7 linked regions of the Homo sapiens genome follow. The protein of the gene in region 7 purifies or fractionates together with the protein of the main gene of each other region. This does not show direct contact. Each region holds a gene or a part of one and is shown on either strand. Other genes may lie near its edges.

Evidence for each region.
Region 1: the proteins of TBC1D15 (region 7) and DNM1 purify together in Homo sapiens (affinity purification with mass spectrometry; 2 studies listed by BioGRID and IntAct, with this or other methods). This does not show direct contact.
Region 2: the proteins of TBC1D15 (region 7) and STX12 purify together in Homo sapiens (affinity purification with mass spectrometry; 4 studies listed by BioGRID and IntAct, with this or other methods). This does not show direct contact.
Region 3: the proteins of TBC1D15 (region 7) and DNM3 purify together in Homo sapiens (affinity purification with mass spectrometry; one large-scale study listed by BioGRID and IntAct). This does not show direct contact.
Region 4: the proteins of TBC1D15 (region 7) and MTCH1 purify together in Homo sapiens (co-immunoprecipitation; one large-scale study listed by IntAct). This does not show direct contact.
Region 5: the proteins of TBC1D15 (region 7) and MYO9A purify together in Homo sapiens (co-immunoprecipitation; 2 studies listed by BioGRID and IntAct, with this or other methods). This does not show direct contact.
Region 6: the proteins of TBC1D15 (region 7) and THEM6 purify together in Homo sapiens (co-immunoprecipitation; 2 studies listed by BioGRID and IntAct, with this or other methods). This does not show direct contact.

The regions. Positions count from the first base shown.
Region 1 is NC_000009.12:128,220,379-128,223,878, reverse strand, and holds part of DNM1 (dynamin-1), read right to left. Parts: intron 1,683-3,500; coding exon 1,540-1,682; intron 1,419-1,539; coding exon 1,283-1,418; intron 1,087-1,282; coding exon 1,019-1,086; intron 1-1,018. UniProt on the Homo sapiens protein: Catalyzes the hydrolysis of GTP and utilizes this energy to mediate vesicle scission and participates in many forms of endocytosis, such as clathrin-mediated endocytosis or synaptic vesicle endocytosis as well as rapid endocytosis (RE).
Region 2 is NC_000001.11:27,800,719-27,804,218, reverse strand, and holds part of STX12 (syntaxin-12), read right to left. Parts: intron 2,542-3,500; coding exon 2,404-2,541; intron 1-2,403. UniProt on the Homo sapiens protein: SNARE promoting fusion of transport vesicles with target membranes. Together with SNARE STX6, promotes movement of vesicles from endosomes to the cell membrane, and may therefore function in the endocytic recycling pathway.
Region 3 is NC_000001.11:171,844,498-171,847,997, reverse strand, and holds part of DNM3 (dynamin-3), read right to left. Parts: intron 1-3,500. UniProt on the Homo sapiens protein: Microtubule-associated force-producing protein involved in producing microtubule bundles and able to bind and hydrolyze GTP. Most probably involved in vesicular trafficking processes, in particular endocytosis.
Region 4 is NC_000006.12:36,969,197-36,972,696, forward strand, and holds part of MTCH1 (mitochondrial carrier homolog 1), read right to left. Parts: coding exon 3,456-3,500; intron 1,499-3,455; coding exon 1,451-1,498; intron 1,278-1,450; coding exon 1,210-1,277; intron 919-1,209; coding exon 843-918; coding exon of another isoform or gene 657-842; exon of another isoform or gene 1-656.
Region 5 is NC_000015.10:71,898,151-71,901,650, forward strand, and holds part of MYO9A (unconventional myosin-IXa), read right to left. Parts: intron 3,191-3,500; coding exon 3,041-3,190; intron 1,857-3,040; coding exon 1,537-1,856; intron 883-1,536; coding exon 1-882. UniProt on the Homo sapiens protein: Myosins are actin-based motor molecules with ATPase activity. Unconventional myosins serve in intracellular movements. Regulates Rho by stimulating it's GTPase activity in neurons.
Region 6 is NC_000008.11:142,730,223-142,733,722, forward strand, and holds part of THEM6 (protein THEM6), read left to right. Parts: intron 1-3,500.
Region 7 is NC_000012.12:71,842,759-71,846,258, reverse strand, and holds part of TBC1D15 (TBC1 domain family member 15), read right to left. Parts: intron 1-3,500. UniProt on the Homo sapiens protein: Acts as a GTPase activating protein for RAB7A. Does not act on RAB4, RAB5 or RAB6.

The sequences.
Region 1 (3,500 bases), on a different chromosome or scaffold from region 7:
GACAGGGTTTCACCGTGTTAGCCAGGATGGTCTCGATCTCCTGACCTCATGATCCGCCTGCCTCGGCCTTCCAAAGTGCTGGGATTACAGGCGTGAGCCACCGCGCCCGGCCCTAATGAGGCTCTTTGGGGCAAGACAAGGTGGTTGAGTATCTGATATGTAAGTCCTGCTTCCTCGTAAGGGTCTGTGCATATAGGAAGTTCTATGGCCAGAAATGGCTTGAAAATTGCCAAACGTGGTTCTCCATAAGAGCCTTTCCAGGAATAGAGTGTTTTGTTTTAAGACTAGGAAAGAGATCTTTTTTCTGTGAATTGGCCAGTGCAGTTATCAGGAAGTAAATTCCATGCCAAATCTTGGAAATGAACCTGCATGAGAGCAAGGGGACACTGGGTCTTGTTCACTGCTTGGCATAGGGTAGGTGCTTTAAATTTTCCGGCCCAGTGGATTTGTTGGATGAACACAGCATAGATCTGGGTCCCTGAAGGGGATCTAAGCTTTTAAGGAACAGATTCCACCTCCCAATCCTGTTTCCTACTCCACGGGTTGCCTAGAAGGAGGGCGGTGGGGTGGAATGGGACTGACTCTGGGCTACTGTGAATACAGGAGGGTGTGGAGGATTGCAAAGTCCCCGGCCGTCATAAAAGGACACAGCCTCATACTTAGATGCTCCACCCCAGGCCCTCGTAGTGGTTTGGACATCTTTGTCCGGTTACCTGGGTGGCACTGGGGGAGCTATCTCACCCTGGGGATGGGCCCAGCCCCAGAGGGTGTTTCCCCGGCCACCTGCGCCCTGGGCTGTGCCCAGTTGGCCCAGCAAGTTGCAGTAGGCGGGGTGGCCCGGGTCCACCTCCCCAAGCTGGAGCCTGTCATGCAGGGAGCCAGAAAGTTGGGGTCGAGAGGACTGGGGAACAGAGCTTTCAGTCCTTCCTGAGGGAGGCCCACTTCATCACTCCCTGTGCCTCTGTCCCAGACCCCCTACTTCTGGGGTTCAGCCACCCTCCCAGGCCCCAATACGTGCCTAATGCCATGGATATTCTTGATAGCATAGCTGATCTCCCTTCGGAGTTCCTTCTCATCAAACTCCATCTGTGTAGAAAAGCAGAGAAAAGCCTGGTCAGGGCCTGTCCTACTACCTGGGAGGTCAAGACAGGGCCCACCCCACACCTAGGGCTGGGCATCAGGGCCTGTGGGGTGGGGGCCAGCAAAAACACACGCAGAGAGAGTCCTGAGTGAGGGTGGGGGGAGTCCTGAGCCATCCTGTCCCCAGGGCTGCCTGACCTACCTTGACCAGCTCGAAAGGGAAGCGCTCGTGGAAGATTCGGTTAATGCGGGCTCCCCCTGACAGTTCGTAGGTGTCGATCTGATCTCCTGAGCCCTCAATGCGCTTCTCAAAGTCTACGGCGAACTGCTGGACCATCCTGGTGGGAGAGTGGTGTGGCCTGAGGGGGCAGGAGCAGCCCAGCAAAGGGAACCCTGGGAGAGCCCCACGCTGAGAGGCTGGGGGCGGGGATTCAGTGATAGGAGCTGGGGGAGCCTCACTGCAGCAGGGCCTTGGTCTTGCGAGCTGGGTCATCAGGGCGGAAGTTCTTGTATTCCTCCACCTCCTTCTCAATGGACAGTAGCTGGCTCTGCAGCTTGTTCCGCAGCCCCGGCAGTGTGTCCCGGATGTGGTTCGTCAGTTGCTGGGGGTAAGGGTGAGGAAAGGGTTGAGGACAGATGGTCACAGGGCCAGGAAGGGACTTGGATGCCAGGGGACTGTGTGAACGTGGTGAGGTGGAGAGCTATGGAGGGCAGCCCTGCCACTGCTGCCCGGGCCACTAGCAAGAAAACTGGTTCATAGAAGGAGCTTGCAGAGATGTATTAGTTGAATTAATGAGTGCATAATTTTCAATAAAGCCAGAAATCTGGATTTGTATTTGGAATTTCCTGATTTTTGGCCAATTTAATCTTTTTATTTTTATTTATTATTATTATTTTTTTGAGACGGAGTTTCACTCGTCACCCAGGCTGGAGTGCAATGGCGTGATCTCAGCTCACTGCAACCTGCGATCTCTGCCTCCCAGTTTCAAGCAATTCTCCTGCCTCAGCCTCCCAAGTAACTGGGACTACAGGCGTGCACCACCATGCCCAGCTAATTTTTTGTATTTTTAGTACAGGTTTTCGCCTTGTTGGCCAGGCTGGTGTCGAACTTTTGGCCTCAAGTGATCCACCCGCCTCAGCCTCCCAAAGTGGTGGGATTACAGGCATGAACCACCATACCATCCCAATTTAATATTTTTAGACGTGCGTCTGAGGCAGGGGTGGCCAGAGGGCTGCCCCTTGGACCCTCTGGGTTTAAAGCCTCCTTTAAGGTCATTCTCAAGTTCTAGCACTCATGCTCACTAGGTGCCCCCACACAGTATCTCCCTGAACCTTTACAACAATCCTATGAAACAGGTCTGATCACCATTGTCTCCATTTTACAGATGCAGAAATAGAGGCTCAGAGGCCAGGCACGATTATGGCTCATGCCTGTTATCCCAGCACTTTGGGAGGCCAAGGCGGGCAGATCACCTGATGTCAGGAGTACGAGACCAGCCTGGCTAACATGGTGAAACCCCGTCTCTACTAAAAATACAAAAATTAGCCAGGCGTGGTGGTGTGTGCCTGTAATCCCAGCTACCTGGGAGGCTGAGGTAGGAGAATCCCTTGAATCCAGGAGGCAGAGGTTGCAGTGAGCTGAGATCGCACCATTGCACTCCAGCCTGGGTGACAAGAGCAAAACTCCATCTAAGAGAGAAAGAAAGAAAGAGAGAAAGAGAGAAAGAGAGAAAGAAAGAGAGAAAGAGAGAAAGAAAGAGAGAAAGAAAGAAAGAGAAAGAAAGGAAGGAAGGAAGGAAGGAAGGGAAAGAAAGAAAGAAAGAGAAAGAAAGAAAGAAGAAAGGAAAGAAAGAAAGAAAAGAAAAGAAAGAAAGAAAGAAAGAAAGAAAGAAAGAAAGAAAGAAAGAAAGAAAACAAATAAAGAAAAAAGAAATAGAGGCTCAGAGAGCCAGAGAGAGTGTCTCAGAGGGGGAGTGACAAAACTGGGATTGGAAACCAGGTCTTGCCTACACAGACAGACAGTCAGACAGACACACACACACACACACACACACACGCGCGCGCGCGCGCACTTCAGTTCTGGATGCCCCATTCCAGATGGAGAAAAGTCCTGGGGAAGCCCCTGGGATTCCCTGTCAAGGTCTTCAGCCGAGTATACTTGAATCCTGGCCCCCAAACCCAAGCTCTTCCCCATGACACCCTCCACATAGGTCTTGGCCTTCTCTGTGTTGGGGACTTCCAGGGCTTCCCTGGCAGGTCCCAGACAGGGAAAGGTCAGTGAAGCTTTGCTGCTACCTAGCTGTGGGGCTGTGGGCAAGTTGCTTTGCTTTTCTGAGGCTCAGTTTGTCTATCTGCACTACGGAGAGGCTAACCTCTGCTGTTCACTCTCAGAACACACTTAATTTATCCTGTTTTCATGC
Region 2 (3,500 bases), on a different chromosome or scaffold from region 7:
CCTGACCTCAGGTGATCCACCCGCCTCGGCCTCCCAAAGTGCTGGGATTACAGGCATGAGCCACTGCGCCCGGCCACAGAATTTAATGATTTTTAAGAGTGTAATGGGTTCCTGAGATTAAAAAGTTTGACAACTTTTGTTCTATTGAGTTGTATCTTTCTTTTTCATATTGATTCATGGGAATTCTGGGGTTTTTTTTGTTTTGTTTTTTGTTTTTTGAGATACAATCTTGTTGTGTCGCCCAGGCTGGAGCACAGGGGCACAATCTCAGCTCACTGCAACCTCTGTCTCCCTGGTTCAAGCGATTCTCCTGCCTCAGCCTCCAGAGTAGCTGGGATTACAGGCACGCGCTACCACGCCCAGCTAATTTTGTATTTTTAGTAGAGACAGGGTTTCACCATGTTGGCCAGGCTGGTCTTGAACTCCTGACCTCGTGATCTGCCCACCTTGGCCTCCCAAAGTGCTGGGATTACAGGTGTGAGCCACCACGCCTGGCCGAATTCTTTATATATTCTAAATGCTAGTCCTTTGCTATTAAATATATATAGCAATGTCTTCTCCCTGTGACTAGTCTTTTCACATCTTTACCACTTTTTTTGTTCTTCATTTCTTTCTGCTTTTCAGACTTTCCATCTGAGATCACTTTCCTTCCATCTGAAATACATTATTTAGAATTTCCTTCAATAAGATGTGCTGACAGAAAACTCTCTTTTGATTGAAAATGTCTTTAATTAGCCCTCATTCTGACATATATTTTCACTGGGTTTAGAATCCTAGGTAGGCAGTTATTGTCCTTCATCAACATTCAAGATAGCACTCTACTGGCTTCCACTGTTGTTGAGAAGTCAACTGTCAATCTAACTATTGTATCTTTGAAGGTATTCTAATGTTTCTCTAGCTATCTTTATGATTTTTCTCTTTGTCTCTGGTCTGAAGTTTGTCTTTGATGTATCTAGATTAGAGATTTTATTTATCCTGCTTGGGATTTGTTAGGCTTCTTGAAACTGCAGGCTAGTGTTTTTAATCAGTTCTAGAATATTATCACTCATTATTTCTTCAAATATCACCTCTGTTCTATGTTTGCCCTATTCTCACTCTATAACTCCAGTTAAAACTACGTTAGATCTTTTCTCTCCATTCTCCATTTTTCATAATCTTTCTTCCGTATTTAACCTCTTAACCCCCTATGCTACATGCTGGATAATATATTCTAACCAATTTTTTAGTTAAACCACCCATCCACTAAGTTTTTAAATTTCTATATTATATCTTTCCATTTTAGAAATTCTTTTGACACTTTTTCAAATCTTTGTGTAGTTTCCTGCAGAGGTTTTCAGCCTTTTATGTCTTTAAACACAATAAGTATAGTTGTCTTATAATTCTAATATAAAAAGTCTTTGTAGGTATATTTCACTTCATTGTTGTTTCTACTAATTCTTGTTCAGAGTAATTTGTTTCTTTGCACACATGGTTATTTTTAGTGACTGGTACTTACTGCCCTAGAAAAATTATTTGAGAGTATTATTTCAGGGCTAGGATAAAGGTGTCTTTCTACAGAAGGAATTTGTGTTTGCTTCTATCCCACACATAGGTGGCTCTCCCAGTCCAGGACCACTGAACCATTCAGGTAGGATGAATTTGAGCAGAAAATCTGCCTGAAGAAGGTTACTTTGTGGTAACCTTGTCTAGATTTCTCCTCCCTCCTGCCCTCCTCCTCCATCTGCTCAGTTCAGTGCTAATGCAATCTTTCTGTAATCTGCCGGGGGATAGAAGAGCTTACTTTTGACTTAATGTTCTAAGGATATAGTCTCTTAGGGCCCAGTTTAATTTGAGTTGTACCTTCTTTTATATTCTCTCTCTTGCATGGACCTTTGGCTTTGACTTTTATCCTCCCCATGCCATGAGGATATCAAAACTGAAGTTCAAGTTTGCCTTCAGTAAAGACATTCAATGCAAAAGCAGTTTCAGTATTCTGCTGACCTCTCAGGCTTTACCTTAATATTTTCATAATCTTTGATACTTTTGAGAAGTTGGATTTTTAAAATCCAGTATTTGAAAATCCTTTTCAAAAACAGAGGGCTAGTCCAAATAAACTAGCCTGTTATATTCCAGGAAACAGATTCATTATTTTTATTTTCAAGTTTTTAACGTTAAAACCAATATATCAAAATGAAAAAGAAAATTAGACATAGTTCTTCCTCCTATATCTCTTAACCTTCATTCAGATTCCTTTCTAGGCTTTGATCACATGCATATATGTTTTTTACATAGGTTACACCAACCTGCCATTTTCACAGCAGCTAACTTACATGTTTATTGGTCAAAGAGAAAAAGAAAAAAACCCACAAACTTGGAAAAGAACATTCTGATATTGCAAAGGTCTTCTTTTGGGAATCAACTTACAGAAAGACGAGATCCAGCTCTTGCTCTGGCAATACTCTCCTTTTCCTTTTCAGATACCCTTCTCTGCACAGCCTGGAAATTGTTTAAGGCTGCAGAGAAGTCATTCATGAGGCGTTCCTTCTGAAGTCTCTGCTGGCGCTAAGGAAATCAAGCAAGAACTTGAGATTTCATATTAACCCAGAATCATTTGGTTTTAATTTCCCTTAAAAGTAAAATTATACCCCTTAAAGATTTCCAACTAGGAAAATTATTATGAAATAGTCTCTTCTTTAAATTAATAAATTTGCTCTTTGCTAGCTCAAGTCCCTGGTTAATACTATAGACCAAGTCAGAATTTTTCTTCTTTCATTCTGACAAACCTGGAACTGGGTTGCATTTAACTTCTTCTTCTTTTTTTTTTTTTCTTTTTATTGAGACGGAGTCTTGCTCTGTCGCCCAGGCTGGAGCGCAGTGGCATGATCTCAGCTCACTGCCAACCTCTGCCGCCCGTGTTCAAGCGATTCTTGTGCCTCAGCCTCCTGAGGAGCTGGGATTACAGGCACCCACCACCATACCTGGCTAATTTTTTATTGTATTTTTAGTACAGATGGGGTTTCGCCATGTTGGCCGGGCTATTGTAGAACTCCTCACCTCAGGTGATCTGCCCGCCTCGGCCTCCCAAAGTGCTGGGATTACAGGCGTGAGTCACTGTGCCCAGCCTGTATTTAACTTCTAAAGTAATCTCCAAAGAACTGCAATTCAGAATTTTGGTGCCCTGGAGAATATAAAAGAGAATAAATACCTCTGGACTCCAGTTGAATCCAAACAGAGATGGGTTTTAGCTAAAATGTTAAAACCCTATTCATCTATATTGAATTCACAGCTTCCCTGTAAACTATAGAAGCATTTCACAGGCTTTTAGTGGTTTAAAATCTTTGAGACTTGGTAAGTACTTCATTTATCTACAGACTACCTCTACTAAGCTTGTTACTTCTATGTCTCAAAAAACATATGCTGAGGTTGAGCACAGTGGCTTATGCCTATAGTCCTAGTATTTTGGGAGGCTGAGGCAGGAGGATCACTTGAGCCTAGGAGTTCAAGACCAGCCTGAGCAACAT
Region 3 (3,500 bases), on a different chromosome or scaffold from region 7:
ATAATAATGTCATCAAATGCCAGTCTTGCTACTATTAAAGGAAGAAAAGCTAAGCTACCTATGATCACACACACACACACACACACACACACACACACACAGAGAGAGAGAGAGAGAGTAATTAATATGGTATTAATGAACCCTCTAATTTGTTGGAAATGATTTTTAATTCATGAAATGCAAATCATTTAGTGTCAACTCCTTTACCCTCCTCCCATTCTAAACAATTCATTCCATTTTCAGGTTTGCCTTTAGGACATTTTCCCTGACATTTGTGTCTTTGACTTATTCTACTCCTTTAACTAAATGACTTATTCTTTAAAAGGAAAATAGAATTCACCTCCCTTAAGTATTAGTGCCTTGGAAGTCCTTATAAAATACTTGATCTGATCCATCCCACTCTCAATTAACCTTCACTGCATCCAGTTATATTTTTAATCTCTCCAATCTCTTTTTTTTTCCTTGCTGCTCTTCTCTAGGGCCCTCTCCAATATACAGTATCTCTTTGTGATAAAGTCACAGTCTAAATTCAATGCCTTGTTGTCAACTCAGAAACTGAGACACAGATCACCACCTTCCTGCTTTGACATAGATACTTCAGTACATGCAGGCTTGAGCTAAAATGATATGGGCTGCCAGATGACACTGGAAATGCATATATTGTCTACTTTCCACTTATATTCAGTTCAATTTCAGAACTGTAGTTTTTCAGGGATTTTTGTAAAAATAAATTGACATACTATAATTTTTTATCCTGATTAGTTTGCATTATATCTGACTACCTTCATTTTACATGTGCATTTGAAAGTTGTCTCATACTTTATCCTGTCAGTTCTCTTTTTATACATACATAAGCTTCTATGTATTCATATTTTCTTGTATATTCTTACCCAGTAAACTTAGAACTCAATAAATACATGTTCATTGGTTTTATGTGTCCATATTTCTCAAGAGTTCCAGGAGGAGTCATACTGAATCCCAGCTTGGCTGCTTGCTAGCTATACGATCCTGGGTGAATGACTTGTCTCTCCAACCCTGAATTTTCTCCCCTATTGACATGGGGATATGGAAACAGGTAAGGAATAGAAGGTATGAAAAGTATCTAGCAGAATCCATGTCTGCTACCCCATAATGGCTAAGCAAATGTTGGCCCCTTTTTTCCGTCTACTTTATAAAATGTATTTAGTATGACATAATCCATAAGAATTTTTAAATCAATGCAGAGAGTGTGAGAAACTGCAATGCAAACTTGGACTAGGATAAATTGCAAAACTTTGGCCATGCAGAAAATTAAATTGGATCATTCTATATAGCATATGAGCTTGGGACTCTCTTGACTTGGCTCTGGTAGCAGAGGAAAAAAATAATCTATTTCTTTCTAGATACTTGAAGTCCCTCTAAAATAAATGACAATAATAAATAAAACTTCATAATTTAACTTACTAGCCATAGCAAAAGGTACTACCTAAGAAGAATACCTAACACTCTAAATGTATACTCCATTGATAGAGAACCCAATAGCCTACCCTCTAATCCAGCTAAACATTAAGTTTCCATTCCTCCAAGGTTCTGGGTGACTGCCCAACTTCATTCTTAAAGAAGTTAAATCAAGTGCATTTTTGGATAACTGTTAATCATAAGTAAATTCCAAAACAGAGATATCCTATCCAGTCTAGTTATCTTAGTTATATTGCTCTCAGACATTACTAATAAAAAAGGAATTCATTTGATGGTAGTAATTAAGTACCACCAACTGTGAATTTGTGATAACCTAAAAGTATATTATATAATGTTAATTCAGCAAAAATATTTTTGTGATTTCAAGTTCTACCAATTCATTGTTGCATGAAGAAAAGTTCATGTTTTGACACTTTATTTATAGACCTTGGGAACTATGAAGTATGGTTCTCAATAATTATGACATTTTAATTGTAAGCACCATTTATCTAATAACTATAATACTTAGAAGCAATTTCTTGAAAAATATCAGCATAATCACTTTTTAAAAATATTTTATTTCGTCCCCATTAATCAAAAAACTTTTTCTATTTGTGCAGAATTGAGAGTCTATTTACCACTCAGACTAGAATAAAATAATGTGGACTCTTCTGCCTATATAATTAGCATTGAAAAACTAATATTTCTAACAAGCGTGTCATTTTAAAACATCTGCGTATTAGCAACTAGTACAGTTTTCACTTAACACCTCTATAAATGAGTTATATGCACTCTAAAAACATACTTAAATAAACAATCCAATTACATTTTAAAACTCTCTTCAAGAATGTCTAATATAGCAAAGAAAAATACTTATCTTTTAATAAATGTTGCTTCTGCCTAAGGGGTCACCTCAAATCTTCTGTGAAATGAGGCAAGGTAAACATATGTAAATAAATATTAATAAAATCATTAACATAGTAGCTTCTTGTTTATTATTATTATTTGAGACAGAGTCTTGCTCTATCAGCCATGCCGGAGTGCAGTGGCACAATCATGGCTCACTTACAGCTTTGACCTCCTGGACTCAAGTGATCCTCCTACCTCAGCCTCCCAAGTAGTTGGCACTACAGGCATGCTCCACCATACCTGGCTAATTATTTTTTGGTTTTTCTGTAGAGACAAGATCTCACTACGTTGCCCAGACTGGTCTCAAACTCCTGGGCTCAAGCAATCCTCCCGCCTTGGCCTCCCCAAATACTGGGGTTATAAGCATGAGTACTGTGCCTGGCCAGCTTCTTATTAATATAGGTAACATTTATATAGGGAGCAAGACAGAAGTTAAAAGTATTTATCAGAGGAAATGGTAAACCTCAACATGGAGGATGCAATATGGCACAGAGGTTCTAGAGCATGGGTTATGGTCATCAACACCTCTAGTTGAATCTTAGCTCCACTGTTTTTATATTAAATTAAATTATCCTTGAGTGAGTTACTCAAACTCTCTAAATCTTGATTTCCTCTTCTGTAAAATGGAAATCATAAGAGTACCTACCTCTTTGGGGTTGTATGAGGACTAAATGAGATTATTCATATAAAAGCACCCAGAATAGTACCTACACATAACAGGCACTCTATAAATGTTAACCATTATTATCATCACCACTGCACTATAAATATATGTATACGTATAATGAAAATAGTTGAATAAATTCAATTCTTCTGTATACAAATCAGACCAGTAGGCAGACCCAAGCCAGCTAGTAAACCCCTATGTTCAGATTATAGGTCTCAAATTCTATTCATTAGATCTTAAGCTGCCTCTCATTGCCAGCATATATCTCATCCTGCACCACCAAAAGAACAATCTGGTTACTCATGCTATATCACATTAATATGCAAGTTCATCACTTCAGCAAGAAAATCACAAACAAGTGGTTCATTCATGACTCATTTTATTCATAACAATCTCAAACCTGTCACCCAAAAATCAGCTTTTACAGCAACCGCTAAATGAAGTAAACATATTCACATCCGAATTCATTCATTGGTGTCCAAAAAAA
Region 4 (3,500 bases), on a different chromosome or scaffold from region 7:
GGAGAGCCCTAGAGAGGAGGCTCATTGCCCCTCTTGCTTCAGAGCCCAAGTGGTCTAGGACTCTTTCAGTGCTCATAGGGAGGACGAGACACACTCACGCTGACCAGGGCCACTGGGAAGAACTGCGGCTCTCCTCCCTGCTTCCCTCCCATCTGTCCTCTTCTCAGCCTCGAGGCCACTCAGAGTTCTGGCTCCCTCCGGGCCACTGCCCCATTTCACTGCGAGGCAAATCAAGGCCAGGAAAAGGCAAGGTTCTGCCCTCGGCCAAAGCCTGGACCCCTGACTGCTGGGCCCAAGAGCTCCAGCTACGGAGAGGTAGCTTCGGTACAGAACACGAGAACCCAAGGTTGGTACTGCTGCCAGTTCCCCACGTGGCCCAGCCCCACCCACAGGCTCTCCTGGGCCCAGGAATGTCCTGCAGGAGGGAGGAGTCGGTTTCCAATGCCAGCCGCCCTAACAACCCAGGAACTCAGCTCAACTGGTTACAGACCTCGAATTTTCAGCCCATGTTACTTGAAGGAGAAGCAGTTCTTGGGCTTTACCACCTGCCACCTGGGCCAGAGTTCTCTTATCCTTATCCTAAGAGTCTTTAAGACTCAAAGAAGAAAAGGTCTTGTCTGATGTATAATCTTAAAATAAACCCACACTTAGCCACCTCAAATCCTTTCTGAAATTATGTAAGATGAAAACTTAAATGCCTTATAGATACCAAGTATCTCCTCACAATATTGAATTCCATGAAACCACTTATCTTTGCATGCAATGAAGCATCCACAAAACCATTTCAGCTGAAGGATGTAGCAAAGAACAGGAAAGGCCTCCGCCGTCCAGTGCTTGCTCACCTGCACACTCAGGTACTTCCAGCAGTGAATCCAGGATTTGAACACTGGGGAGTAAGGGGGGAGCCCAGCTTGCAGCCTGCCGGAGAAGGAGAGTGTAGATGCAGAGAACAGTGGAAGACAGCCAGCCACGGGAAAGCCACTTCAAGAAGGAATGCCTTCAGGCTACCACCCATCCACACCCTGACCCCTGACACCACAGTTTACCCCAGGGGGTGCTGGGAAATCCCAGCGGAAGCCAGGGTGCCTGGCAGGCCAAGCCTACACACAGAGCAGGTGGGAGGGGGCAGAGTGCTGGAAGGGCTCGGTGGGTCTCCCCCACCCCACAGCCTTGGTAGGTAGAGTGGCAAGTAGAGGGGCGCACACCTACCCGCAGTTGTTCACAGCCATGAGGTCGCCAACTAGCAGGAAGGGGTAGGTCAGCATGCTCACTGCAATCTGAAACCCAGAGAGGCCTGAGTGCCAGTGACCCACCCCGGCCCAGGGAGCAGGGACACACCACGCCAACACCCTGTACCAAGACCTGCCTCCAGCCATTACCAGGGTTGGCCTCCTAGGCCCCGCTTGGGTCCGCAAGGCAGTGGGAAGGAAGGACAGCTGGCACAACTTACCCCCATCACGAACTTGGTATAGCTCCGGATGGCCAGGGCCTGGCTGAACTGAGGAGACAGAAGGGAAGAGTGGTTTGCCACAGGCACCTCAGGATGCAGACTTCAGCAACACATGCCCTCACCCCACCCTCTGTGCTGAGCTCCTCACAAGCACGCTGCACATGCCTTTCCTGTCAGCCCTCACAGTCACTGCCCAGAGAAGGCCTGGGGGGCAGAAACGGGGTAAGTGGACTGAAGGGAGTCCCGAGAAGGAGACCCGGTAAGAGGGATCAGCTGCCGCTGCCTGTGCAACCCACCGGACTGTGAGCCTCAAGGGCTGAGCCCGTGTCTGCCTGATCAACATCCAGGGCTTGGCACGCAGTCAGTGCTAAGACAGACATGCACCCTGAAACCCAAAGACGAATCCTGGCCTGTGGGGTGAGGTGAGGGCAAGTCCAGGCTTATCGCCACCTCCACCTCAGCAAGCTTTTCCCCCTTCAGACCCCAACTCCTCAAATCCTGCTTTGCTGAAGCAAACAGCTCCTAGTGAGGAAAGGTGACTCCCCCACCCTCAGCTTCCTGTGGAGCGGCCATCCCACCAGATCGATGGCCTGGGTTCTTGGTCAGAGATTTGCTCAGATGTCTGCTTGAGTGGCTTTGACAGCCCGGCAGCCTCACCTCGGCCTTTAAGCCACATACAGAAAAGCACTCGAAAAACACTTTAGACAAATCTGTTGACTGCTGTTGTTGCTGATGTAAGCACGGCAGCCTCTGGTCAGACAGCTGCCCACCTAGATGAGAAACCACTTAGCGGTGCACTCCTGGCCACCCTTGCTCTGTATGTGACAGCAGCAGCTTACCCACCCACAAGGCCCCCCGAGAAGGGGCAGAACTGCAGGAATGTACCACTGTGATTGCAGATGGGGTGGGTCTCTATGGAGCCACTTTAATTTGCTTACATCGAAAGGCCAGTGAAGACTCACCTGCCCAGGTCAAGTGGCCAGTCTCCCTGCAAGCAGAGGCTCCCATCTGGGATGGGGCACTCCTCACCACACAGAACAGACATGTACCACACACACACACATGCTGAACATGACCCCCTTCCCACCCAGGTGATTCTGGCAGACACGTCCCCAGGCCCTCCTAGCCTCCTGGGAGGGAAAGCCACTTCAAGAAGGAATGCCATCCTTCTTGAAGGTGATCCCCACTGTGAGAATGTCTGGACACTGCAATTCCCAGCCATCGCTGCTCCCTACCTCTTATCTTGGTTCAGGCAGAACCAGTCAACCCCTCAGGTACCTGGATGGCCTTCCTCAACAAGTGCTGTGTAGAAGGACCAGGCCTTCCTATGCCTGACCCGACCTGCTGAAAGGTCTATGTATACTAGGCTGTGTAGACCACAGCTAACAAAATAGGAGGGTGTATCGGACTGTACACTTCCTAGCAGATCTGAAAAAACTCAGAGGAATGCACCCTTGGCCTGGCCAGGGATCTAATTCCAGCCCTGTCAGTTCCAGCTGAGTGACTCTGGAGAGCCCAGAGCCTCTCCAGAATTTGTGATCTCTGGGTCTCGATTTCTGTATTGGTAAACGAACATTATACCTGCCCTGTTCCCTTCACAACTAGGATGCCGTCAGATCAAAGGCCATAACGTTCACAAAAGGGTTTTAAAAAGCAAAAGACGTGACACAAAGGTCAAGAGGTGATCACTATTAGCTGGTCTATCTTCTGACTTCCTGAGCCCTAGTTGGGTCACTGCCTCGGAGCAGCCTTAGATAAGCTGGGGTCTGTTTCTAAGGCGCCCAGGGACAAGCATTCCATTAATTCCTCCCAGGTCTGGGTACTAATCTGGAATCTCGCCTCTTGAGGCCGTTCTCCCCTTAGACAAAGATGACTCCAGGGATAATGAGAGGTCCTCTCTCACCCTCCCGGCCTGATGCTGAGAATCCCAGAATCCTTGAGTTTGTCCCAGACCCTGGGCATCAGCAGCACACGGAAAGAAGGACAAGTCCTTGTTCCAACCAACCTGGGAACCTGGATTCTGGTCGTTTCCCAGCCCCCCTGGGGTGTC
Region 5 (3,500 bases), on a different chromosome or scaffold from region 7:
GCTGTGTCTTCATTTTCCAATAGTTTGTTTCTTTGGATACTTGTGTCTAGTTGGGAATTTGTTTTCAGTGGGTCTTGTTGGGGGATATAAAAAAAAGTAGGTAGACTATTTGAAATGAAGGAGTCTTTCAGCTGTGGTTTACAGGTAATAGACTCAGAACTGCAGACCACCATTTCCTTCATAGTTCCATCCTTCAAATGCTCTGCACTGCTAGTCTCATTTGAGGCACTGAGGGCATTGTCCCGTGAATCAAATTTTGGACTGCTGGATATCTTAGGTGATGGAAACTGCAAGTCTCCTTCATCTGAAATGACAGACTCTAGTTTGCTCTTTTGGCTTTCCTCATAGCTCAGAAGTTCCAAGCTTCCTTGAGAGCTCTCACTATCAGGTGTACCCCGTGGAGACTGAAGGCCTTCAGGCACCAATTCTGTAGACCATCTGCGATCCTCTGAAGGAGAAATACCACCAAGAGAACGAACTTTCAGCAATTCTAAGCTAAATATAGCTTGCTCTAGTTCTCTCATTCTCCTACTTTCTCTCTTAGCCCGGCCTACTTTTTTCTGATGGAGATCCTCCAAGGATCTGGGTCTCTCTCTTACAAGCACATCTTCCTGCAAGTCCACACCACTCTGGCTTTGGGCTCTCTCCTGCTGCTTGTTTGGTGACTCCTTCAAGCAGTCCACTGAACTTTCACGGCTAATTCGATTACTCTCTATTACAGATTTACATTCCTCTATGGCTTTTATTCTGTTGTCAAAAGAACAATCCTCCCATCCTGAAGGGTCTGAACCCTGAATTTCCAGAGATCCATATCCCTTAATATTCACCAATCCAACTTCTGGCTTTGTTTCTCTTAGCCTTTGTTCTTTTAAAGCTTTAAATCTATATAAAAACAGACAAAATGGGTTATAGAAATATCTTAGTTACCACTGAAAATAACATATTTCCTGAGAATTTAAGAAAAAATGCAGAGTTGTAAAATCTTTTTATAATACCTAAGTTCTTCTTAAACTAACTTGAATGCACATTTCATAATTTTCCTATTTCCATGAGTCAGATGATATTTCATTAAGTGTATTACTTCTACCTAGGCATTTCAGTCAAAATGTAAACTAATTCAGAAGTAAAGCTCTCATTTTAATAATGCCTTTATTTTAAAGTAAACCTCAAATTAAAGTGAAATTTTAAGTGTGAAATTAAAGTGAAATTTTAATTTAAGTGTGAAATTAAAGTTTCTGAAAGTAACAACAGTTGAATATTGCCAATTTTATAAGATTCAGCCTAATGTAGAAGTTAATTCTTAGCAGTTATGATCACAGACCATGTAGATTTTCAATCCAATTTAATTCAATAAAACCTTATTTAACTTCCATTATAGACAATACAATGTGGGTTAAAATCGGTATCACAGTATAGTGGAAAAGACAAATTGTATACAACCAATTCTAATACAAATTAGACAAGTGTTAATGCAGAGGTATAAACAAAGTACTTGGGAAGAAGAAAAAAAGCAATTATTATAGTAATAGAGATTACCTTTGTCTTGCTCTGAATCCTCTACATGTTGATTGCAAAAGGATAATTTTTTTCCTTTGTTCTTGGTACCTTTTACTTTCCCTGTAGGCTTTCCATCTTGCTTGTATGCAAATAGCAGCCATGTGCCTGCGCCTATAGTAATCTCTCCATTTCTGCTGGATAACGATGGCTGCAGCCCGTAACTCCAAGTACCGCTGCCTCTCTAAGTGAGCACGCCAGGAAGCTTGGAGAAGAGCAGCTGCACTAGCCATAACAAAAGCATCCTTCTGCACAGCTGCATCTCTGACTTGCTTCTGATTTAGGTAATTCCTCCAGAATCTCTATGGGGAAGACAAAATAACAGAAACTGGTTGTCATATCTTACACTGCATTTTCACAGGAAAAAAAGAGAATAAATTTCTTATGTCATAATTACAGGTTAAGTGGCTATGCAGCTAAATTCTTGGTGATTAAAAATAAGTTTTCTGGCCAGGTGCGGTGGCTCATGCCTGTAATCCCAGCACTTTTGGAGGCTAAGGCAGGCAGATCATGAGGTCAGGAGATAGAGACCAACCTGGCTAACATGGTGAAACCCCGTCTCTACTAAAAATACAAAAAAAATTAGCTGGGCGTGGTGGTGGGTGCCTATAGTCCCAGCTACTCAGGAGGCTGAGGCAGGAGAATGGCGTGAACCTGGGAGCTGGAGCTTGCAGTGAGCAGAATTCACGCCACTGCACTCCAGCCTGGGTGACAGAGTGAGACTCTGTCTCAAAAAAATAAAAATAAAAAAACTAGTTTTCTACAAAAGCAGAAAGTGTACCTGAAAAAGATAAATAGAAAAAAGTTTTCTCTTCCAGATATGTTTGGCTAAAACAGCTATTTTAAATAATATAACCTTGAAGAAGTTAATTACAGAACCTAATTTAAAATTTTTGGATGATTTCATGTCCTTCAAATTATTAGTAACTTTAACATATTATATTCTTTTGTTACAATTTTCCTAAATAACACTAATGGGTTTAAGGTAATCCTGACACACATTCCAAAGATGAAGATACTAAAGATTTTCTTGCACAAATGGAAAAGATCTTATGGAAATGATATAAATCAATGAGGGAGTTAATAAAACAAATAAAATGTAAAATAAGGTACCTATCATCCAAAATGAGTGTCTAAAACCAACGGTATATATACAACTCTCAAACATCACTCCAAAAACTATTAAATAAAAACAACTATGTCAACAAATATTAGGTAACTCCTTAGCCCCTACACAGATCTCACAAGACATTATAACTACAAATTCAATTTAATTTAAATTCAATGGAATCAATATTTATTAATAGTCTATTATATGCCAGATAATCTGTTGGGTGTTATGAGCACTTCAAAATTGGGTACGACATATTCTCATTTCTGAAGTTCACATTATTACTGAAAATGTTTTACAGTAAAAAGGTTCTGGTTACTAAACAAAGGCCAAATAAACTAGTCAATCTCATGCAAAGAATCCTTTGCTTCTCACCTGGATAATAACAGATGCTTGTCTCAGATGGAGGAAATGCTGCCTACACAGCAAGACCCTGAACCATCGCTGCAACAATATGATTCTGCGGAGCACCTCTTGGTGAAGCAGATCTTGTAAGTGCTGTCGTTCCTGCTCCTTTAGAAAGACCTACCAAAAGGAAGAAAGATGAGGAATGCAGCTTAAGAAGAAATGAGAAATTTATTTCATGAATCATCCTTTCTGTGATAAGCTTTTAGAGAAGAACAAACACAGTGGCAGGCATGTAAATGAAGTACTGATAAATATTCCTACAGATTTATCCAAAGTAGTCATTCTCAAATTGAAATGGAGATAGTAGAATACGGAAGGTGAGCTGGGTGTGGTGCTACATGCCTATACTCCTAACTACTGAGAAGGCTGAAACAGGAAGTTTGCTGAAGCCCAGGAGTTCCAGTTCTACGGCAAAATAGAGAGACCT
Region 6 (3,500 bases), on a different chromosome or scaffold from region 7:
CGTTTTTTTCTTGGCTCTGCGGATGGCAGTCTCAGTGGTTAACAGCATAAAATAGGGTTCTTCCCAGGCTGGCTCAAGTTTTTTCTTTCTGTCTTTTGATGAGGACGTGGTTTTCAGGCTGGTGCTGGTGTACTGGAAATTCTAGGGGTGGTACCTAGAACTAAAAGTCTTTTAGTTCTGAGGGAAGGGAAACTGGAAGATAAATTAAGTATATCATTTTTGCTGCATATCCTGGGGCTTGAGGCCCCATGGTGATGCCTCCCGCTCCATTCCTGCTCAGCGCCGCCCAGGGGACACTGCGGCCCTGCCTCCTCTTAAGCTCTTGGCCTTCTTGGGGCCTTCACTGCCCCTGTGCACTGTGGCCTTGGACATGAGGGGCCTTGTGACTTACCTGGCCACCTTCAGGCCTTAAGAAAGCTAAACACCATTTTATATTTGACAGTGCTTTTTGTATGATTTTATACCAGATAAGTTAAATTTTACCTTTATACTAATGTGCTATTAATGTTAAACTTAATAAAATCTTTTTTTTTTTTTTTTGAGACAGAGTCTTGCTCTGTCGCCCAGGCTGGAGTGCAGTGGCGCAATCTCAGCTCACCGCAAGCTCCGCCTCCCGGGTTCACGCCATTCTCCTGCCTCAGCCTCCTGAGTAGCTGGGACTACAGGCGCCCGCCACCATGCCCAGCTAATTTTTTGTATTTTTTAGTGGAGATGGGGTTTCACCGTGTTAGCCAGGATAGTCTCGATCTCCTGACCTCGTGATCCGCCCGCCTCAGCCTTCCAAAGTGCTGGGATTACAGGCGTGAGCCACCGTGCCCGGCCAAACTTAATAAAATCTTGTAGACATTATTTATTCAATTTTAATGTCTGACTATAGGGTAAGATTTTTATAGACTCTTTTTAAGCTTTTATAATTTTTGTTAAAGAGCGGGTTAGTGCTTTAAGAAAAATCTATTGTGCTTTTAACATCCAGTTCACAGAAAAACTGCATGATACCCCTTTAGCTTTAGCCAATATGTTTACACACAGAATTTCCTTTACAATTAACATTTTAAAACTTGCTTAAACCTTTAAAACAAAATATATTTTTTAACCTTTTAATGTAGGTAAAAATCCATATTATGTCTCCTTATAATCCTGTTATTAAAAGTATTATTTTATTTTTCTGACATACCTTGTATATAAACTGTTTTTTTTTAAATAATTTTACATTCAGGAGGCCTAATTACTTTTAAATTATACACTATTTCTTGCATAAATTCCCTTTTATAGCTTTTCTTACAACTTTCACAATCTTCAACATGTCTTAACTTTCTGCCTGCCTTTTACGCTATTTCTTTTTCTCAGTTTCACCCTCTATGTCTTCCTTTGATTTCTGTCTCTTCCAGTTTCTCTCTTATTCTTTCCCTCTGTATTTTAATCTCTTTCTGTCTCTTCTCTCTCTTCACTCTCTTCATCCCCTGCTTCCTTCTTCCCTCCTGAGTTCTCCCGCTCCTGCAGCAGCAGGGCCGGGCAATGGCACCAGCCCCTGGGCATGCACTGCCGTCAGTTTCTCTATCCACCCCCACCATTCCCCTTTTTACTTTTTTTCCCCTTTCTTCCTACACTTAGTTTCTCGGGCTGGGTGGGATTTGCATGGCTGCAGTCCGGCCCCGGCAGCCCAGAGGCTTGGCAGATGCCTGCCACAAATTGCAAGAATTATGCCCTCTCACCTCCTCTGCTCTCTTCCTGGCGCCGCTGTGCTTGCTGTTTTTGCTTTCTTTTTTTCTGACTTCCTCTCCTAGTTCTTTTTCCTGTCTGCTGGTCTTTCCTTTGTCTCTGCCAGCCACCTATGCTGCTGTTTTCCCCCCTCTCCTTCCCCTTCCCCTGGGGGACCAACCAGCGGGAGTGAAGCTTAGCCTTTTTCTTTCCCTGTGAAGAGGGGAAAAGGGAGTTTTGAATATATATATATATATATATATATATATATATATATATATATATATTTTAACTACTGGAGGTTTGTGTGAGGTTCAACCCCCTGAAATTAATGGAAGACTTAACCCCTCAAACCAGGGGTGTCTTGCCTTGCCTGCCCTGGGAGGTTGACCTGTTTCCTCCTTTCCCCCCAAAGGTCCCTTGCATACTTCCCACTTGTGTTGTCCTCTCTGGTCGCCCCCCCAAGGGAGAATTAGGCCCCTCTTAGTGTAGGCGTGCTGGTATAAATCCCACAGCAGGACCTGCCCTAAGCCATATGAGGTCACTACAGAACCGGAACCATGGAGGGGACCCACTCACTGTCCAGCAGGAGGACTTGTCACCGTCCACACAAACCACACTGCAAGCAGGGTTGTCTGTGATCATTCACACATACACACATTCAGCCCTCCAGAATTTCACCACCAAGGAAGTACTTTACCAGCTTCTGTGGCTTCTCCTTCCTTGGTCTGTGCACAGAGTTGCAGCCCTGGTATGTGAGCATCCTTTACCTTAGGTTGCTGGCCAGTTTCTTTTTTTTTTTTTTTTCTGCATTGCTGAGAGTCCGGGTTTATTCGTCACACCAGGTGGGTCTCAATTTCTCATCCCTGAGGCCACTGCAGTGAGGCAGAGGAGCGTGCTCCCTCATGAGAGAGGAACAGAGACCGCCCCCGCAGGAGAATGTAGCCCTGTACGGATTGCCACCAAATTGTTTGAAATGCTTGTTCCCCGGTGCCGTAAAGAAACAGCAGTTGAACATAAATTTAATTTACTCAGCAAGGACATTTTTACTTCCTGCAGAAAGGACACACTTGCCATCAGCTTTGCCACAAGAGTTCACCCAACAAAGGAAACAGGGTCATTTATAACCTGACGCGTCCACCCTATTGCCGTCTCTGGTTTCCATTGACTGGGATGGGACCTCACATTCTGTATCTGTCCCGATTGGCTAGCAACGTACAACTTTTTAAAAGAGGCAAAGGCAGAGGAGAACAAAGGAAGGAAGTAATTTGTGGAATGCTGAGAAAGGTAAAAACACCTTCAAATAAGGAAGAGGAACAGGCTATGACCTAATGCCCGCTTGGACCAGTATAAGCATGCCAGGGCAAATATTTAGGCTAAATTGTGGGAGCTAAGAACCTAAAGTAGTACATTGCTTTCTTTATTACTGCTAGCAGATATTTAATAATGTTAGCACAGGTCTTTGAATAAATTTTGCTTCTAAGAGAAGTTACTATTTATTCCTAATTAGATCGGTAGGAAAGTCTTTGAAGAGGAACCTCTACTTTACAACTAAACATCTAGAGGCTCGGAATGCCTCTTTCTGGGGATGCAGCCCAGCAGGCCCCAGCCTCATTTCCCAGCCCTCACTCAAAATGGAGTCGCTCTGGTTCCAGCGCCTCTGACACTGAGAGGTCATGTCAGGAATGGGGAAACTGAGGCTCAGAGGAGCTATGGCACTGCACAAAGCTACACGGCTCCCTGGTCTTCTGTTTCTGTTGAGTCATGTGAACCAAAAAGTATCGGAGATATGTCTCAGTCAA
Region 7 (3,500 bases):
TATAAAACTTCCAATGATGGCCTGCTGAAAGCAACAGAAACTGTATTTTGTTTTTCTCCTCTAGCAAAGGAGCTATGTCAGATATACCTTATTAAAAGAGTTCTGGTGACCACAGCAAACATTTTAGAATAAATTTTCTCACCTCTAATTTAGCAAAAGTTTTAATTAAAAAGCAAAAATGAGGCAGAAAAACAGATAAATTCAACTTTTAGACAGAATGAACTTTTGCACAATCCAACTCAAGAACATCCTTCCTGACACAAAGAGCTGGAAAAAATAAGGAAGTTTCACAATACAGTAGTAATTTTTTATACTGTCCCTACACTTAATACTGAATTTTTACTTATATTATGATTATTATAATTTTTATTTATTTCCAAAAATGGAAGATAAAGGAAAAATTCAACCCAAATATTTTAAATGTAGCAGTAAGTTCAGGGTAAAATTATTGCCCTAAATCATTCTCCAAACTTGGAAACCCATCACCTATCATACACAACATGCATTCTTAACTTTAGCAATTATGTGAACTTACAGGCTAATATAACAACCAAAAAAGGTACAAAAGTTCAGTTTCTTTCAAAACTATTTGGCATACAGATGATAATTTGAGCATATGGTTCCAGAAAGCATCCCCAGGAAATGCGAGACTGAGCATCCTAATGGGCTCCACACCCAAATATCTAAGCACCTACTTGGTATCTCCATTTCAATAAGGCATCTTAATCTCATGTGTTCTATCTAAACCTGCTCTTCTTCTATATTCCCAATTCTGTCAAAGATATCTCATCCACCCACTTATTCTAAATGCTTCTTTCACCATCCAGACCCTATAACCTAAGTCCCTCGAACCTTCTCCTCTGACACTGGCCCCTTATCATTTCTAGCCTAAGTCACTAAAATAACATTCTGATCTCTCTTCTTCTGATCTAGTCACCTTCCAATAATCTGCCTAAGGTGCATAATGTATAACCACTGCCCAAACTAACCTTTACAAAATGTCCATCTGGTTATACCACACAGGGGCTTAAAAATCTTCTGACTTCACCCTTTACCTCTACAGTGAGGCTATACTTCCTGATACTCCCCAACACATAAAACATTTCTGCCTTGGGCCATTGTGAACTCTGTTACCCAAAAGCTTTGTACCTTTTTTCAGGTGTATTCTGTTCCATCTACCTGGAACACCCTTTTATCCTTTCTCTCTGCAAATAACTTCTACTAAATCCTTCAGAAAAGAACATAAGCAATAGCCTGCCCAAATTCTTTGAACTACTCTCCATTCCACTTAATCTGATTTAGAAGTTTCTTTACTCATGCATTCAGCACATTTATGAGCACCAACCACATGCTGGAAATAAAAGGTGTCAGTGGCAAAAACACACACAAGGAAAAGTGTCTGACTAAACTAGCAGTATTATGTAAGCCAGTAAATCAATGTATATAGTAGAGTGTAATAGAGGAATGCAGAGAATCCTGAATGAGGTACCATTTTCAGTTACTTCTTCAATAAATATACAGTAAACGCCTACCATGTGCCAGGTACAGAGCAAGCTACTAGGTGTAAATAAGTAAGATTCAGTCACTGCCTCCACAGCAGTTACAATCTAATGGGATGACAAGAAAACAGACAATTACAACATGTAATTGTACCAACAGGCTGCCACAGCAAGCCCTAATAAATGCTATCTTACCTAGATTTAGGAGGCTCAGGCAGAGTGAGAATCAGGAAAACTTACTTAGAGCGACATATAAACTGAGATCTAAATAATGGCAATTTTAATTAGTAGAGGGTATAGGGAAGCAGAGGATATATGTTCTTAGCAGAGGATATATTTTATACAGAGCAGTAGTTCACTGCATGATTGAAACCCAAATACCAGAGAGTAGAGTCTAAATAGTTTAGAAACAAAAACAGAGACCAGATCAGATCATAAAGGGCTGCATAAGCCATGCTAAAGAATTTAGGAGTTTGAAATTTATCCTGAAGACAGACAAACGCAACTAGAAATTTGCCTTTTCTAAGCCAATAAAGTGGCTGCAGGGCCAAGAACGAACAGCTGCAGTAATCCAGAGAGGGAGAGACTCATGGTTGCTTGAACTAAGGCAATGGTAGTGGGGATGAGGAAAGGCAGATGGCTTAGAAAGATATTTAGAAGATCAAAATGACAAGACTTCATGACTGATTAGATGTGAGAGGTGAAGGGGAGAACAGTCAAGGACAAAACTGTGTAGATGAGGTTATTTACTGAGAGGGAGAACAGAAAGAAGAAAGCTGAGTTTTATTTGGGATGTGTTAATGAGTAATGACTATGGAACTAAAAAAAATGCACAATACAGGTGGTTGTAAGGGCAATACATCACAGATAGTCTGAAGTGAAGAATGTTTTGAGATATAGAGAATGGTACAACTCTCAAGGAAGAGCAACTGGCAGAACTATTATTGCTTCTCAAGGATATTGGTGTGCCAAGCGAAGTCAGATAGGAGACGTGAATAATTTAAGAGTTGGAGGAGATACACAGTCAGCGCTGCAATGAACCATGATCACACCACTGCACTCCAGCCTGGGTGACAGAGCAAGACTGTCCCAAAAATAAATTAACAATAATAATAATAATAATACAAGTCTGTGTTTAACCACCCTTGTATCCAAAGAACTCAGCACATAGGAGGTACTAAAACGTTTGTTGAACTAAAGAATGCCAGAAAAATTTAAAAATAAGACATACTCCTATTATACCCTAGTTAACTACCATGTTAAAAGATCCAGTCTAGGAAAACAAGTCTCCAGGAAAATCTAGATACTAAGAATATTCATCTTTCTAAAGCACAAAAATTTTATAGGACTATGAGCATATTTAAAAAGAATTGGTTAGGGCCAATTTTAAGCTACAAAATAAATTGTTACTAAAAATGACATCACAAATTCTAATTAAGAAAAAAAAACAGCTGATTTCCCTATTGTTTCAAGTAATTTTCTTTTTCATTTTTTGAAACACAGTATGCCCTTCGCCCAGTCTGAACAAGTGGCACAATCTCAGCTCACTGCACTGGTTTCAAGCGATTCTCCTGCCTTAGCCTCCTGAGTACCTGGGACTACAGGCGTGTACCACCATGCCCGGCTTTTGTATTTTTAGTAAAGACAGAGTTTCACCATGCTGGCCAGGCTGGTCTCAAACTCCCGACCTCAAGTAATCCACCCACCTCAGCCTCCCAAAGTGATGATTACAAGCATGAGCCACCGTGCCCGGCCAGTAATTTTCAATAGAAAGAAATTCTAATACACTAACAGGAAAACCTAGAGTGAATGAAGTGTACTACAATAGGATTTTACAACTCTGAAACAAAAGAGCTATTAATGGACCCATTTCTCCCACTCTAATCCCTCCTCATTTTCTTTTTCTTTTCTTTTTTTTTTTTTTTTTTTGAGACAGGGTCTTGGTCTGTCACCCAAGCTGGAGTGCAGTAGCACCATCATAGCTCACTGCAGCCTCCAAGT